Linked DNA regions of Homo sapiens. The protein of the gene in region 1 purifies or fractionates together with the protein of each later gene. This does not show direct contact. Each region holds a gene or a part of one and is shown on either strand. Other genes may lie near its edges.

Region 1 (3,500 bases):
TATAATATTTTATCACATCCCTTGGATTGAAGCTTCATGAGATTGGGGTCTCTTTAATAAATTATCTTTGTTTCTCCCTCAGTGCCTAGCATCAGAAGTAGTCAGTAAATATTTATTGAATTAATCAATACTTTTAGTTATAATACCAAAGCAGGGATTAGAAAATTTACTCATGTCTCTAGTTAGATTTTTTTCCTACCATATTCATTCTAATTTTTGTATATAGGTAAAATAAATCAGTAAATAAAATATAGCATATAAATAAATACATAAATTGATTAAACCATGTTTTAGGCCCTATGCTAGGTGTTAGAGGTACAAAAATAAGCTATAAATTTAACCCTGCAAGAACATATGGTCTCCAGAGGGAGATATGCATACTAAATAAATAATTTCTATAAAGTATGAGGTAAATAATTAAGTATGCATGATATATTTGTGTTCAGAGATGGGAGTCATTATGTCATGCACAACGACACATTTGCCCTTTTGATTGGGTCATGTTCTTCAGGAAGATGTACAAGAAAAGGCGTTCTAGGCCAGAAGTATGTATGTAAAGATATGCATACTTTATGTATTAATACACTCATTGTAAAAAGAATAAGAGTATGGAAGAGAATTGAATATTGCTAGAGTGTAATGGGTAAATAGTGGGAGTGACAAGATACAAAGAGGTAAGTGGGTCCAGAAAAACAATGAAGGGTTTTGGATGCCATTCTAAATAGTTTGGTCTGTGGGTCATGGGAATCTATTGAGAGTTTTAAACAGGGAAGTTAATACAGTTATACTTGACATTGTAGAGGAGTATCTCTAACAGTAGTATAGGGGATAGATTAGGGAAGGATATCAGTAAATAGCTATTGAAGAGCTGAACTACTGAATGCTGTGGAGATACAGGAAAGCAGAGATTCAAGGTATATTTACAAAATATAACGGGTAGGCCTTATTGCTTAGCTGGTCGTGATATGTAAGGGAAGAGTAGTCTATTCATAAAATTGAATTTGTTTTGGTTTTAATATTTATTGTATGCTTAATCTAAACTAATTTTAAAACAATTTTGAGCAGGAGAAAATAGAAATATAGGTTAGAGAAATTGATATTTGGCATTTTAAAAAACTATCAGTGGGAAATAATGTGGAAATTTTAGGATGAGTATTATATCTGCCTCTGGTATGTACCTGTAGGACTGCATGAGTGAGTATGATCATGTAGTAATAGAATGACCATCTCCATTGGTAAAGGCAAAAAACATTTTGTATCTTTTATGAGTATTTTAAGCTTGGTGAGAAATTTACACATTTTTCTTATAGATATTTGTGTAAAGAACTCAACTGTTATCACTTGCTTTTGCTATTCATACTCAAGATCCACGTTAATTTTGTTTAATGATCATGATGTTAGAAGAGATAATGGGTATAAAGAAAATACTTATCTAATTGAGGGAAATGCATTTTTTTAATAGATTTTTATGAAACCAGATTTTGCCTTGGATGATTCCTTAACTTTTAATTCAGTTTTACCATGGTCTCATTTTAATACTGCTGGTGGAAAAGGAAATCGTGATGCAGCTTCCTCAAAGTTGCTTCAAGAAAAGGTAATTTCTTTTTGACTTTTTCCATGTAGGAAACTATTCTAGTTAAGCGGTACTGTTTGCTTGGGTTCAGATTTAGTTATTTAGTAAGCTGTACTTTTAAATTCATTTTTGTTCTTACTGATAACTATAAGCCTCCCAATCTTAACTGATAAACTAACAGCATTTTGGTTCAATGGAACACAAGTTGTGCAGATGAACAAGGAAAAACTTACTATTTGAGTGCTTCTTACCTGAAAGAGCAGTTGATGGAATTTTAATTGAAAGGCTATATTAGCTAACACAATAAATTGCTTTGCATTTGTCCCAGATATTTTATTTACATACTGGCTAATTTTATTTATTTTTATTTTTATTTTTTTGAGACGGAGTCTCGCTCTGTTGCCCAGGCTGGAGTGCAGTGGCACGATCTCCACTCACTGCAACCTCCACCTCCTGGGTTCAAGCAATTCTCCTTCCTCATCCTCCCAAGTAGCTGGGACTACAGGTGCGTGCCACCATGCTTGGCTAATTTTTTGTATTTTTGGTAGAGATGGGGTTTCACCATGTTGGCCAGGCTGGTCTCGAACTCCTGACCTCATGATCCGCCCACCTTGGCCTCCCAAAGTGCTGAGATTACGGATGTGAGCCACCATGCCCAGCCCCACATTGGCTAATTTTATAAGAATGATTTAAAGCACAGAAAACCAATATTTTCCGAGGTACTGTTTTTCATTTTCACCTAGGGATGATTATTTTGAAACAAAAATATCTTAAAGAATACAATATTCCTATTGTTTTTGTAGCTTTGCAAAGCCTAGTCTTTTACATGTTACTAGTCAGCAGTTCTTTACGTTTTACAATGTCATAGTCCAGAAGTCAGCACCTTGAAAGTCATTTAATATTTAGATCTTTAAATATAATTTACTTATCAAGAGTCTTCTAAAGACATTTGATCTCTGTTCTTTCTTAGCATTCAGTTTAGAGCTCGTCTAAAACTGAAGGTAGTTCTTAAAATGAGAAGTAGTGATTTTGTTTTACTTTAGTGATATCCCCTGGCAATCTGAAAGCTTGTCTCAGGAAGACATCAATAATATCAGGTTCAGTCCTCATCAGGAACTGAAGAAAAGACTAGCTTGGGGAGGAGAGAAGAAGAAATGTGGGGAAGGAATCATGAGTATTCCTTTTCTCACAATTGAAAACGAAAATGAGCTTTTTCCTTTGGCAACATTGTCACCTATAAAAAGGTTTTTCCATGCATAAGAACAAATTGATAAATCTGACGAAAACCATGGGTTTAGAGACACAGGCTTGCTCATGACACAGGCTTTCATATTCTAAGTATATGCCCTGAGAGAATAATACCTTAAAAAGAGAAAAACAGCAAAAGCCAGTAAAAGTCTCATCAATGTATACAGGTACTTTTAATACAGATAATTTAAAAATTATTTCCTTTATAGCATTTTAATAGGAAGTAAACTATAAAAATGTTATGCCTTGAAAAGAGTAAATCAATGGATTATTGAAAATTCAAAAAATCTTTGAGACTCAAATGCTTTTCTTATGCTGAATGTTTAAAGTGACTAAAATAATGGAAATTTTTTTTATTTGTAAATTGCAGAATCAGATTTGCTATATTTACATTCTGACTCCTTTTCGTTCTGCTCTGTTCTTAGAATAGGAATAGAAGACAGGATTCCAAGAGAGCACTTTGAAACTCCTTTTATGATGGACAACAGCTGGTTTATCATGTTCGCTTTTAAGAGCAAGGATGCTATAACTAGAATTAAAGAAATTTGTATTCTATTGTACTGTGCAAAGTGCTGGTCTGCAGTAAAATAAGGAGTTTGCACTGGAATGCAAATCACTGCACTGCTTACTTCATTAAGAAAGTCTGAAAAAAATACAGTGTGCTTAATGATGTAGTTGA
Region 2 (3,500 bases), about 61 Mb from region 1:
ACTGCATCAACTAACAAGCAAAATAACCAGCTAACAGCATGACAGGATCAAATTCACACATAATATTAACCTTAAATGTAAATGCACTAAATGCTCCAATTAAAAGACACAGACTGGCAAATTGGATAAAGAGTCAAGACCCATCAGTGTGCTGTATTCAGGAAGCCCATCTCACGTGCAGAGACACACATAGGCTCAAAATAAAAGGATGGAGGAAGATCTACCAAGCAAATGGAAAACAAAAAAAGGCAGGGGTTGCAATCCTAGTCTCTGATAAAACACACTTTAAACCAACAAAGATCAAAAGAGACAAAGAAGCCCATTACTTAAGGGTAAAGGGATCAATTCAACAACAAGAGCTAACTATCCTAAATATATATGCACCCAATACAGGAGCACCCAGATTCATAAAGTAAGTCCTGAGTGACCTACAAAGAGACTTAGACTCCCACACAATAATAATGGGAGACTTTAACACCCCACTGTCAACATTAGACAGATCAACGACACAGAAAGTTAAAAAGGATACCCAGGAATTGAACTCAGCTCTGCACCAAGCGGACCTAATAGATATCTACAGAACTCCCCACCCCAAATCAACAGAATATACATTTTTTTCAGCACCACGCCACACCTATTCCAAAATTGACCACATAGTTGGAAGTAAAGCTCTCCTCAGCAAATGTAAAAGAACAGAAATTATAACAAACTATCTCTCAGACAACAGTGCAATCAAACTAGAACTCAGGATTAAGAAACTCATTCAAAACCGCTCAACTACATGGAAACTGAACAACCTGCTCCTGAATGACTACTGGGTACATAATGAAATGAAGGCAGAAATAAAGATGTTCTTTGAAACCAATGAGAACAAAGACACAACATACCAGAATCTCTGGGACACATTCAAAGCAGTGTGTAGAGGGAAATTTATAGCACTAAATGCCCACAAGAGAAAGCAGGAAAGATCCAAAATTGACACCTAACATCACAATTAAAAGAACTAGAAAAGCAAGAGCAAACACATTCAAAAGCTAGCAGAAGGCAAGAAATAACTAAAATCAGAGCAGAACTGAAGGAAATAGAGACACAAAAAACCCTTCAAAAAATTAATGAATCCAGGAGCTGGTTTTTTGAAAGGATCAACAAAATTGATAGACCGCTAGCAAGACTAATAAAGAAAAAAAGAGAAGAATCAAATAGACGCAATAAAAAATGACGAAGGGGATATCACCACCAATCCCACAGAAATACAAACTACCATCAGAGAATACTACCAACACCTCTACGCAAATAAACTAGAAAATCTAGAAGAAATGGATAAATTCCTCAACACATACACTCTCCCAAGACTAAACCAGGAAGAAGTTGAATCTCTGAATAGACCAATAATAGGATCTGAAATTGTGGCAATAATCAATAGCTTACCAACCAAAAAGAGTCCAGGACCAGATGGATTCACAGCCGAATTCTACCAGAGGTATAAGGAGGAACTGGTACCATTCCTTCTGAAACTATTCCAATCAATAGAAAAAGAGGGAATCCTCCCTAACTCATTTTATTAGGCCAGCATCATCCTGATACCAAAGCCGGGCAGAGACACAACCAAAAAAGAGAATTTTAGACCAATATCCTTGATGAACATTGATGCAAAAATCCTCAATAAAATACTGGCAAACTGAATCCAGCAGCACATCAAAAAGCTTATCCACCATGATCAAGCGGGCTTCATCCCTGGGATACAAGGCTGGTTCAATCTACGCAAATCAATAAATGTAATCCAGCATATAAACAGAACCAAAGACAAAAACCATATGATTATCTCAATAGATGCAGAAAAGGCCTTTGACAAAATTCAACAACGCTTCATGCTAAAAACTCTCAATAAATTAGGTATTGATGGGAAGTATCTCAAAATAATAAGAGCTATCTATGACAAACCCACAGCCAATATCATACTGAATGGGCAAAAACTGGAAGCATTCCCTTTGAAAACTGGCACAAGACAGGGATGCCCTCTCTCACCACTCCTATTCAACATAGTGTTGGAAGTTCTGGCCAGGGCAATTAGGCAGAAGGAAATAAAGGCTATTCGATTAGGAAAAGAGGAAGTCAAATTGTCCCTGTTTGCAGACGACATGATTGTATATCTAGAAAACCCCATTGTCTCAGCCCAAAATCTCCTTAAGCTGATAAGCAACTTCAGCAAAGTCTCAGGATACAAAATCAATGTACAAAAATCACAAGCATTCTTATACACCAATAACAGACAAACAGAGAGCCAAATCATAAGTGAACTCCCATTCACAATTGCTTCAAAGAGAATAAAATACCTAGGAATCCAACTTGCAAGGCACATGAAGGACCTCTTCAAGGAGAACTACAAACCACTGCTCAATGAAATAGAAGAGAATACAAACAAATGGAAGAACATTCCATGCTCATGGGTAGGAAGAATCAATATCGTGAAAATGGCCATACTGCCCAAGGTAATTTATAGATTCAATGCCATCCCCATCAAGCTACCAATGACTTTCTTCACAGAATTAGAAAAAACTACTTTAAAGTTCATATGGAACCAAAAAAGAGCCCTCATCGCCAAGTCAATCCTAAGCCAAAAGAACAAAGCTGGAGGCATCACGCTACCTGACTTCAAACTATACTACAAGGCTACAGTAACCAAAACAGCATGTTACTGGTACCAAAACAGAGATACAGATCAATGGAACAGAACAGAGCCCTCAGAAATAATGCCGCATATCTACAACTATCTGATCTTTGACAAACCTGACAAAAACAAGCAATGGGGAAAGGATTCCCTATTTAATAAATGGTGCTGGGAAAACTGGCTAGCCATATGTAGAAAGCTGAAACTGGATCCCTTCCTTACACCTTATACAAAAATTAATTCAAGATGGAATAAAGACTTAAACGTTAGACCTAAAACCATAAGAACCCTAGAAGAAAACCTAGGCATTACCATTCAGGACATAGGCATGGGCAAGGACTTCATGTCTAAAACACCAAAAGCAATGCCAACAAAAGCCAAAATTGACAAATGGGATCTCATTAAACTAAAGAGCTTCTGTACAGCAAAAGAAACTACCAACAGAGTGAACAGGCAACCTACAAAATGGGAGAAAATTTTCACAACCTGCTCATCTGACAAAGGGCTAATATCCAGAATCTACAATGAACTCAAACAAATTTACAAGAAAAAAACAAAAAACCCCATCAAAAAGTGGGCAAAGGATATGAGCAGACACTTCTCAAAAGAAGACATTTATGCAGCCAAAAGACACATGAAAAAATGCTCATCATCACTGGCCATCAGAGAAATGCAAATCAAAACCACAATGAGATACCATCTCACACCAGTTAGAATGGCAATCATTAAAAAGTCAGGAAACAACAGGTGCTGGAGAGGATGTGGAGAAATAGGAACACTTTTACACTGTTGGTGGGACTGTAAACTAGTTCAACCATTGTGGAAGTCAGTG

The links.
Region 2: the proteins of VPS54 (region 1) and EIPR1 purify together in Homo sapiens (affinity purification with mass spectrometry; 4 studies listed by BioGRID and IntAct, with this or other methods). This does not show direct contact.

The regions. Positions count from the first base shown.
Region 1 is NC_000002.12:63,963,929-63,967,428, reverse strand, and holds part of VPS54 (vacuolar protein sorting-associated protein 54), read left to right. Parts: intron 1-1,462; coding exon 1,463-1,594; intron 1,595-3,500. UniProt on the Homo sapiens protein: Acts as a component of the GARP complex that is involved in retrograde transport from early and late endosomes to the trans-Golgi network (TGN).
Region 2 is NC_000002.12:3,371,319-3,374,818, forward strand, and holds part of EIPR1 (EARP and GARP complex-interacting protein 1), read right to left. Parts: intron 1-3,500. UniProt on the Homo sapiens protein: Acts as a component of endosomal retrieval machinery that is involved in protein transport from early endosomes to either recycling endosomes or the trans-Golgi network.